Homo sapiens: one gene and its partners. The protein of the gene in region 2 purifies or fractionates together with the protein of the main gene of each other region. This does not show direct contact. Each region holds a gene or a part of one and is shown on either strand. Other genes may lie near its edges.

Region 1 (3,650 bases), on a different chromosome or scaffold from region 2:
TCACAGTCCCCATGTCCATCTATCTCATTTACTAAACTATCTCACGCTCCACTGAGTCTTCCCCCACCTGGCTTCACAGTTCTAATCTGTCCACTCTCAGGAGTCTCCTCTCCCCTCAACTTCAGGCACACAATAAGATGATACACTTTGGCCTTTGTCATCACTCAGAACTCTGCTGGCTTCTAGTTCTTCAACTCCAAAATTCCACTCTGACTGCAATCTTCATAGCAAACAAATTACTTTTGGTACTCATCATGCTCTTTAATCTGTCTTGACCTAGCCTCATAATCCAGCAGCCCCCTGTTACTCACTTAATTTCATAATCTTGATCCCATGGTTCAGCTATCTTAATGATTTTGTCACTAATATTGTAGATTCTACCACCAACCCATACCTGCTGAACAATCACCAACTCTGGATGTGGCCCATCATTTCTTTTTTTTTTTTTGAGACAGGGTCTCACTCTATCACCCAAGCTGGAGTGCAGTGGTGCAATCTCAGCTCACTGCAACCTCCGCCTCCCAGGCTCAAGCAATCCTCCCACCTCAGCCTCCCAAGTAGCTGGAACTATAGGCTTGCGCCACCATGCCCAGCTAATTTTTGTATTTTTGGTAGAGGTGGGGTTTCATCACGTTCCCACACAGGTCTTGAAGCGGCCTCAAATGATCTGCCCACTTCAGCCTCCCAAAGTGGTGGGATTACAGGTGTGAGCCACTGCACCTGGACCCATCATTTCCTTTTCTTGCTCTATAACTACTAAGCATAATGCTAAAAATAGTAAAATAAACTAAGAAAGTACATAATTTCCAAATTCTTTAATGAGTATGGATTACTTTTACAACTAAAATAATAATGATAATAATAATAGAAAAAAGAATTTAAAATATTGATTAGAGAAAGCTCTGGGCATTAAAGTTAGACTAGTATCTAAGTAACTAATACTACATACATTTCTAAGCACACGTATAAATTACTACCCGGATCATTAGAAATAAATCAAGAAGTTTACGGTCTATTCAATATATATTTTCAAACACTAAAGTCTAAGCATGAAAATCCAATCCAAAGTCCTATTTTAGTCAATGGTGTTAATATCGTTAAAAGATTAAATGTGTATAATTTGTCTCGAGAAGGAATCGATTTACCTGGAGTTTGTACTACAGCATGCAAATTCTTTTCTTGAAGTTGTTGAATTCTTTCATTCTTAGCTTTGCTCTCTTTCTCCAACAGTTTGAGTTTATGAGCATATTGGTTATTCAGAAATTTCAGATCAGCTGTTTCACGTGCACATTTCTTCAATGAAGTTTTCAACTCTTAAAATGAAAAAGATTCAAAGACCGTTTTAAAGATCAAGAAATCCAATGAAGTTTTTCCATTTCACAAAATACAAAAAGTCATATCAATTTAAAAGTCTCCACCTGCTTCTTATGCATGCTTTAGTTGACACTTATTCCTTCTTCTACTATTATTAACAAAACTGCAAATAACTCACTAAGCACAAAAGAGAATCTTCATTTTTCAGCTACTGTATTAGCCTAACGTACATCATAGCTTTTGATCCAGTAAATTGGGTCTGAAGCTAAAGGATTATGAATTCATACCATGGATTAGATAAAGTTTTCTACTGAATATAAGAATAATTCATACAAAGATAACCATATAATTATCTTTTCCCTAGTACCTTTGAAATCATCCTATTCTACTTGACAGCTCAAAGACTGACTATAAAACAGTCAGCATGATACATGGTTTTCACCTTATTTACTACTTTTATTTTCAGTAAGGGAAAAACAAAAGTTGTTTCAAGAACATTTCTTCAAATCCAGCATTTAATATTCCCTATGGCAATTTTAATTCTAAAATTTTAATTAAATTTTTAATTCTAAAAATTTAATCCACATATAGTGATTATCATAGCTATATAATGCACATTTATTTTCCTTCTCAGGAACTCTTCAACATACCCTATAGTATTTCAGGGGCTATTAGCAGAAGGAGTACCATATTTTCTTTTCTTTTCTTTTTTTTTGAAACAAGTTCTCACTATGTTGCCTAGGCTGGTCTCAAACTCCTGGGCTCAAGCAATCCTCCCACCTTAAACTCCCGAGTAGCTGGGACTATAGGCACACACCATCCAGCTGTAGGACTACTATATTTTCTAATCAATAGTTTTAAAATTAGACGTTAGCTTTTCCTTCTAAAATAAAAAGGACAAAGACATTGCATTTTAAAAATTATCAAATTTTCACTTACCTTTAACGTGTTGGTCTGAATGTTCTCTCAGTTTCATTAACTCTAGGTATAATTCATTATTTTCTCTACTCAATCTTGCATTTTCAAGTTTATAGGGTTCCAAAACAAAATCAAAATTGGCACTTTCTTTTTCAGCTTTCACAGCAGATAATTTTGATTGCCGAAGGCTCTCAGTTGTATGAACTAAGTCGCTAAAAGAACAGAAAATTTAAATACCAGGAAATATTTCATTAACTTTCTAATAACTAAAAACATATTTCTAAAGAGGCTTAAAATACAGTCATGCACCACATGATGACATTTTGGTCAACGACAGACCACATATAGGAAGGAGAGTAGTCCTGTAAGATTTATAATGGGGGCAGCTGAAAAATTCCTATTGCCTCATGAGATCTGGCCATTGTAACACTGTAGCACAACACAATACCTTTTCTATGTTTAGATATGTTCAGATATACAAATAGGCACCACTGTGTTAACAATTACCTACAGTATTCAGTATAGTAACATGCTATACAGGTTTGTAGCCTAGGAGCCATAGGATACAGACCATATAGCCTAGGTTTGTGGTAGGCGACACCATCTAGGTTTGTGTAAGCACACCCTATGATGTTGGTACAACGAAAAAATCACCTAATGATGACATGTTTCTCAGAACGTATCCCTGTCATGAAACTATCCATGACTGTATTTGAAGACCAGTGAAGCAGACATAGAACTTAAGGGGGGGAAAAAAAAAGAACTTAAGGGAAAAGTGTCTCTCAATTATATCAGAAACCCAAAAAACTGTAATTCCATTCACAGAGAAAACCCCCAGAAATGTTGACTTTGAACAGTACAGCGTGAGTGGTGGCCTTTAGAGTTCTGCCGTGTGGAAGGCCTGGATTGAGGACAGGGAAAAAACAGATAAGCTTCATGATTGAAAGCCTTTCCGGAAAGCTACCCTTTTCTTTACCAAAGCATGAAGTTCAATCAGAAATGAGGTAAGTGGTTAGGGATCATAAAGGTTGAAAACTGTATTTTTGTCTTTACCTGAAAAGTTTTTCTACCAAAGGTAAACACTCCACTGTCAGAGTCTGGCGGTATCCCAGCTGATCCAGCCTTTTCCTAATATTAATATACTTTCTCTCTACAGCTGTAGTCATCTCGTCTTCTAAAACAAGTTTTATTCACTTCCAAAAATTAAAGTCCTGAGAGAAAAGAATGAAACATCATTATCTTATTATAGCTATGATTGTTGTTTCACAATAAGAAGAAAAAATTATTTTAATATGAAGCAATTATTTTTTGTTTTTCTTCAGGTAGGTAGCCTTCTGGAAAATTCAGATTTAAAGCCAATGCTTATGATATTCCTGTTACTGCATTAAAATAAATACTTCCTCATACAACTAAATGTA
Region 2 (4,338 bases):
AGATTAGAGTCAGCACCCAAAGCATTTGGGGGTTTGGGGGATTTTTTTTAACTGACAGCTAAACTGCTGTTTATCATGTGAGGTAATGCACGTGTCAGTTAGCTAGATTTAATCATTCTACATTGTCTGTATTCCACAATGTATACATACTTCAAAAGATTACATTGAACTCCTAAAGCATTTAAATGGGGACTGGCTATGAGGCCCTCCCCATTCAAATGCTTCCCTCAACTCGCAGAACACAGCCAAGGCCTGAGGCCATGGAGCAGAAGAGGCAAATACCGGCAGGTATCTGAAGAGAGGGAGGAAATGGGGAAGTGCACCTGCAAGGCTCTCGGTGCAGCCCTCCCCAGAGCTGAGGGTCCACACCTGGGCTGGGAACTGAGGCTGGGACTGGGAAAGAGGTTTTCTTCTATGCCACCCTCAACCAAGAGAATGGAAGAGTCTTGCTTGGGTTCTTAAGCAGACGCCAAGCAGGTCTATGGAAGGAGAGATAAGCGGAAGTTCCAACATGCTTTATTTGAGGACGAGCGCTCACCCGGGATGGAGTAAGAAGTGGGATGGGAGAAGCGTAGGGTTCAAATTTTCTTTGTGTCTCTGTGATCCTTAAAGCATCTCAGCAAGCTGTAGAGATGGTATTAAGGGGAGAGAAAACTTTGAGATGACAAGAGGAAACGTTAATACCATTCTCACTCCAATGAAACCCATGACCACTTTTTAAATGTCCTACAGAATCACTGGGTGAGATAAGTAAGATCACTGTTTCAATACAGATGGGGAAAGATAATAAATAAAGAAGTCTTGGTTTTCTTCATTTGCAGGGAGGATTACCAGGGTAGAAATGGGTAAAAATCGGTAAATAACTATTTACTACTGTCTCTGGTGTTTTCTCATAATCAAGCCACTTAAATACCTCCCTACTTTTCCCTCAACTCCCAGAACAAAGCCAAGACTTTGGTACCAATTTCTTCGTGCTTTTCCTCAAGCAGGTAACTAGGAGTATCCCTACTCCAGCCTTGTGCCCCTAGAACTGGGCTGGAGCTCAGAGACTTAAAATGACTCATGGCAGCTGCCTTCCCCAGCTCAGTGATAAGGTCGCCCCTGCCAAACACTGGAGACCAAAGCCCAGGTCCATCACTCCCATAGTGACTCCTCCCATAAGCTCTGCCTCAGCTGTGAAAGGCAAGAGGGAGAAGGGGAGTGAGGCTCTTGTTCCTCCTCACCTAGTGGGAAGATATGCCTCTTCAAGGTCCCACCCCAGCCAGGGAGGAGAGGGCAGGCCTCAGGCAGGGTGTGGACACAGCTGGTTGACACTCAGCTCAGCTACAGATCGGCTCAGCCACAGTTGGGCCGGCCTGAACCCCAGGTGCCCACCAGCAGCAACTTGGCCCCCTTGCTCTACCTTCTCACCATTCGCCAGCAGTGGGTGCAGGCAGCCATCATCTTTCCACAAAGATGTTCAGTTGGAGGAATGAGAGGAGCCACCAAATGAAAAAGGTACAGGTTGAGCGTCCTTAACCCAAAGATCCAAAATCAAAAATGCTCCATAACCCAAAACTTTTTTTTTTTTTGAGTTGGGTTCTCCCAGTGGCGTGATCTCGGCTCACTGCAACCTCCGCCTCCTGGGCTCAAGTGATTCTCCTGCCCCAGCCTCCAGAGTAGCTGGGATTATAGGCACCTGCCACCATGCCTGGCTAATTTTGGTATTTTTAGTAGAGATGGGGTTTCACCATGTTGGCCAGGCTGGTCTCAAGCTCCTGACCTTAAGTGATCCACCCACCTTGGCCTCCCAAAGTGCTGGGATTACAGACGTGAGCCACCGTGCCCAGCCCCAAAACTGTGAGCACCAACATGACACCACAAGTGGAAAATACCACACCTGACCACAATCAATACTTTGTTTCATGTACAAAATTATTTAAAATACTGTATAGAGTTACCTTCAGGCTACATGTATAAGGTATATATAAAACATGAATGAATTTCATGTTTAGACATGAGACCTACCAAGATACCTCATTATGTATATATGCAAATATTCCAAAGTCTGAAAAAATCCAAAATCTGTAACACTCCTGTCCCAAGCATTTCAGATAAGAAACGCTTAGCCTGTCTTGGGAAACAGCAGCCACTGGATGGAAAGGGGCAGCCAGTAGCAGAGGCCTCAGCCCCTGCCTTCATCCTGAGAATCTTCTGTAACAAAAGCTGCCAGCTTTCAGGGAAGAAAAAGAATTCTGTGGCCTTGACTTAAGCCCAGAGAAACAGGAACTGCCAAACCTTGTTACCCAGCAGAACAGACAGAGAGCTGACCTGGCTCCATGGCAAAGCAACAGGAGAGCCTGGAGAGGTTCAGTTCAGGGCCAGCAGAGCCAGGCTGGGTGGGAGGGCTGTCACTGAAGCAAAGTGACACACATCCTAGAAAGAGACATCAGGGGACCACAAGAGTATTCTCTTTTTTTAAAAAAGAAAAAGATAAATGGGCACATATATACAAAATACTGTCAATTTCTACTGGGCCAACACAGTAGCCACTGCAATGTTTCTCCTTCTTCCGGAGCTTTCCTCCCATAGTCTCACATGTACTCCTGGCACAGCCACAATACCAGTCTCTGGGAAGCATATGTCACCTACTCCACGTGGGTCCCATTCCAGTCACCACAGATGGAAGCACCTGAGCCTCCTTGCCAGTCTTTCCCTGCAGAGTCACTGCACTGGCAGGGAGCTGGAGTGGAGCACGTGGTTTTCCTGTCCTATATCTCCTCCCCCCACCGCAGATAATACTGCTTCCTCGGGTGGCCCTTGGGGCAAGTCATCAGGCTTTATGGGCCAGGAGGGTGGTCAGCTTGATCTTGCCATCCATGGAGGCGGTGAGGCAGGTCCCACAGTCCATGGCAGTGCTCCAGTCCACGGTGACCACAGGGGCTCGGTGGCCACCTAGGCTCAAGCAGCTCTCCAGAACCTTCTCATCGCCACCCAGCTGCAAGAGGACAGGAAAGAGGAGGAGGTGTCAGCAAACACCAGTTACACACACTTGATCCACTTTCAGTGGCCTACCTGAGGATGTGCCTGAGGCCAGACACACATGCCCACCTTTCCAGAAAGTCTGTTTAACTTTTTGAACCAGGAAATGCTTGCACTTTCCCAACTACAGCTGGTCCATCTGAAGTGGAAAACAAGTCCCTGAGCGGCTCCTTAAAAAAAGGCATTTTCTCAGCTGCCTTGAACTTGCTGTGGGCTGGTGCCTCTTGCACGCACACTGGTTGTTCTCACTACAGCATCACTTCTCACTACCTGGCAGGTGCTCATGAATCTGCTTATTTGTTGAAGGTTCATGTCCCATACTGGGGAATGCAAGCTGCAGGAGAGCAGGGCCTCGGGCAGCTCTCTCCTGCCGGGGGGCCAGCCTGCCACACCCAGAACAGTGCTGGCCACAGGGGAGCCTTCAGTTAGTGCAGAAACATGGCTCTCCTCTGAACCCCAGCACTAGCTAGCCAGCGATCCTTTGTCAAAGGCATCTCCACAGCCATGCAGCTCGGGGTAGAGGGCCTCGCTCAGTAGCCATGGCCCAGACCTCCAGGGAGGAACCCCTGCCCACCACAATACCACTACCTCCCACCCCCAACCATCAGTTACCTTGTAGATGACGCCGCCTGTGGCAGAACATGTCAGCATGTAATTTCCCTCCGAGTCAAAAGCGAAGAGTCGGCCCCTGGGGACTTGAACCTGCTTGTAGCCGCTGTATCCAGACAGCACAAAGGGGCCCGTGGCATCTGAGGGGAGGCTGTACTCGGATACCTTGAGGCCACTCTTGTGGATGTTCCACTGGATGAACTGCAGTCACAGGGCACAAGCAGGGTGCTCGCAGCGGAGCTGGCCAATGCAGGCCTCAAGGAAGAGCCAGGACCCACCCCACAGCAGAGGCTGGCGAGGGCGACCCGCCTCCCCCAGCCACAGTGCTGACATCCTTGAAAAGCCTTTCAAGTGCCAGAGGCAGAAAAGTGGGTGAGAGGTCTACAGGTCCTATCTCTGGTCAACATGATTTAAGCATTTTTTAGGGAAGAAAATCTAGAAAAAGAGGCAGCAACCTCACATTAAAGTCCAACCCTTCTCTTTCTCTCTGGCCTGACCCTAGGAGAGGAAAAGGGACAGCAAGTGGCTTTGCCTGGATTCCTGGTCTCTCAAGCAGGAGGAATGCTTCAAGTGACATATTATTATTATTATTATCAGAGTTAGACCCCAACTAGATTTTTCTATCCTAGGAACAAGGTACAGAGGACAAAGTCCACATATATTTCCAGTGTTTCAGGCATATAATCAATTGAACACTGGGCGATGCCA
Region 3 (3,073 bases), on a different chromosome or scaffold from region 2:
ATCAGCCATCAAACCATCCATCCATCATCTGCCAGTCCGTCCAGCTGTCCCCTTCCAACCATCCAACCAACCAACCAACCAACCAACCAACCAACCAACCAACCAACCATCCATCTATACCCTTTCAACCATCCATCCATCCACTCACCCATTCCCTTCCATCCGTCTATCCACCTGCTTCCAACCAACAAACCAATCAACCAACCATCCATCCCTTCCAACCAAGAACCATCCACTCATCCATCCCTTTCCAACCATCCATCTTCTTCCAACCATCCATCCCCTTCCAACCAACCAACCAACCATCCATCCCCTTCTAACCACCTCATCCAACCAACCATCCATCCATCCCTTTCCAACCATCCATCCACCCATCCATCTCCTTCCCCCCATCCACCCTCTTCCAACTAACCATCTCCTTCTAACCACCCCTTCTGACCAATCAACCATCCATCCATCCCCTTCCAAGCAACCACCTCCTTCCAACCAACCATTCATCCATCCCCTTCCAACCAACCAACAAACCAATCATCTATCTATCCAACCATCTCCTTCCAACAAATCAACCATCGATTTATTCCCTTTCAACCAACCATCCATCCATTATCTTCTACCCATCCATCCAATTCTCTTACAACTGATAATTCGTTTTTCAGAAACAGATCTATTTTCCATCTGCTATATACCACCCCTTCCAACCACTCTCTCACTTATCTGCCCACCCCATCATACCCTTCCCAGCACTTTGGGAGGCTGAGGCAGAAGAACTGCTTGAGCCCAGGAGTTTGAGTCCAGCCTGGGTAACAAGTGAGATCCTGCCTCTTAAAAAAGAAAAAATGGCCAGGCGGGGTGGCCCACACCTGTAATCCCAACACTTTGGGAGGCCGAGGCAGGTGGATCACCTGAGGTCAGGAGTTCAAGACCAGCCTGACCAACATGGTGAAGCCTCGTCTCTACTAAAAATACAAAAATTAGCTGGGCGTGGTGACATGTGCCTGTAATCCCAAGTACTCGGGAGGTTGAGTCAGAAGAACCGCTTGAACCTGGGAGGCAGAGGTTGCAGTGAGCAGGGATTGCACCATTGCACTCTAGCCTGGGCAACAGAGCGAGACTCCTTCTCAAAAAAAAAGAAAAAGAAAAAAAATTAGCCAGGCATGGTGGTGTGTGCTTATAGCCCCAGCTACTTGGGAGGCGGAGGTGGGAGGATTGCTTGAGCCCAGGAGTTGAAGGCTGCAGTGAGCTGTGATGGTGCCACTGCACTCCAGCCTAGGTGGCAAAGTGAGACTCTAAAAAAAAAATCTCTTTTTTAACTAATAAGAAAACTAAAAGAAAAAAGAATCAGACCTTGACCATTATACTGAAGAAAAAAAATTGCAAGAAAATCCCAAATTATTGTTGGTCAGTGCACTGGTTTCCATGAACTGTTTCCCATTTTAATTTAATGGCCAAAGAGCTGCTATTAAATCAATCACATGCCTCACTGTTCAACACACCGCATCTTAGAATTACAAAACAGATTTGCTTACATCAGATGTAAAACTTGAACGGCATTTTGTATTTTATGTGCATTCTCAAGTGACCAGACTTAACCCACAAATAGAGCGCCGTGTGCTCCTCGATTGGACAACCAATGTAACATGGCCGGGAAAGGGCAGTTGCTGGAACCAGGGCGAGGGAGGAAGGGTCACTACGGTGTTTAGGCACTAAATGCCCCCAAAGTACAGGGAAGTGTTTGATTCCATCAAGAAAGCACCATTGATACTGAGCGCAGCGGACTAGGAAATCGCTAACGTGGTAAAAAAAAAAAAGCAAGAAACGAATGAGAGGGTAGATGGGTAGGGATTCATGCAGACTTCCCTGGAGGCCTCAGAGAACCCTGGGACACAATGAAGGTTGCAGAGCTGTCACAACTTGTAGCATCTGGGGCTGGGGTGGAGCGGGGGCAGGTTCTTGATCTGCCATGCTTGTCAAGACGATGAGCCAGCAGTTATCAGACACCAGCCCTGGCCCTGCCCAAGCGACCTAGGAAGCTTTTCTCCGAGCCATGGCTCTCTGTCCTTGCACACCATGTTGTCTTTCTGGCCCTTGAGTGGAATGGAAAAGGCCGTGTGCTCCCTGCTAGCCTGGGGATTCACCGGGCACGGCCTTGTCTGCTTGGGCAGCGTCCCCAGGCTGGCACTGCCTGATGCTGATGCCCCAGCCACACCTGCAAACTCTTCCCCCTTTCCCAGCAATGTCCCATGGGGTCTGGCTGGGCCCTAAAAAGCAGGATCTAGGGCACGTCATATCACTGCTGCTAACGACGATGGCTGGATCCCAGAGATCCACCCGGGGATCTCGGAAGGACACACACTCACCAATTTTTTGTCCATTTTTGCTTTGATATCTCTGGCGAGAGTGAAAAATGCCTGTGGAATAAGCACATTGTGAGTCCTTGGGATGGCAGGACCCTGAGTCCTCAGCCGCCCGTGTACAGCGGGTGTGGTGAGACAGCTTCCCAGGCGTGGGCCTCCCATTTGGCCCTTTGATGCCCGCCTCTGGCAGTGGGTTCATCTGGCCTGTCCGGCCCCAGCTCATCCTTCCCCGGCTCCCTCTGCCTCCCACCCACCCTTACTCTCTGACATCAACTCTCACTTCCGCAGAGCACCTTAGCATTGACGGGACTTTACGCATGTGCCACCTCCCCTAAGCCCTGTGAGATGGGGCGACACTCAGTTGGCCAGAGAGGAAACTGAGGCTCAGAGAGGCCAAGTGACTTGTCCAAAGGAACCCAGCAGTTAACCGACCAATCCAGAAGGATCTAGGAGTGCCCAGTTCTTTGTCTCTGACTCCTAGGTTCTGTCAGCTCTGGCCTCCCTTCTGATGGTCAGGGAAAAAGGCAAGCAGCTCTGTGGCCAAACAAGCTTCACTCGGAGTCCTTGCCTGGCAGGGCTGGGAGCGGGAGCAGGTTCATCTCCCAGCACAGCCAAGGGTTGAGCTGCTGTCACAGCCTTGAGGAGGGGACATACAGAGATGGCGGGAGGCGTGATCCCAACATACATCCCCATGATGTGGGAGGTTCTGGAGAGGAGAG

Evidence for each region.
Region 1: the proteins of WDR91 (region 2) and CEP135 purify together in Homo sapiens (co-immunoprecipitation; one large-scale study listed by IntAct). This does not show direct contact.
Region 3: the proteins of WDR91 (region 2) and RAB8A purify together in Homo sapiens (co-immunoprecipitation; 2 studies listed by IntAct). This does not show direct contact.

The regions. Positions count from the first base shown.
Region 1 is NC_000004.12:55,951,879-55,955,528, reverse strand, and holds part of CEP135 (centrosomal protein of 135 kDa), read right to left. Parts: intron 3,444-3,650; 5' UTR 3,399-3,443; coding exon 3,286-3,398; intron 3,139-3,285; exon of another isoform or gene 3,058-3,138; intron 2,445-3,057; coding exon 2,254-2,444; intron 1,314-2,253; coding exon 1,146-1,313; intron 1-1,145. UniProt on the Homo sapiens protein: Centrosomal microtubule-binding protein involved in centriole biogenesis. Acts as a scaffolding protein during early centriole biogenesis.
Region 2 is NC_000007.14:135,183,339-135,187,676, forward strand, and holds the end of WDR91 (WD repeat-containing protein 91), read right to left. Parts: intron 3,832-4,338; coding exon 3,634-3,831; intron 2,978-3,633; coding exon 2,813-2,977; 3' UTR 501-2,812; downstream 1-500.
Region 3 is NC_000019.10:16,128,889-16,131,961, reverse strand, and holds part of RAB8A (ras-related protein Rab-8A), read right to left. Parts: intron 2,409-3,073; coding exon 2,358-2,408; intron 1-2,357. UniProt on the Homo sapiens protein: The small GTPases Rab are key regulators of intracellular membrane trafficking, from the formation of transport vesicles to their fusion with membranes.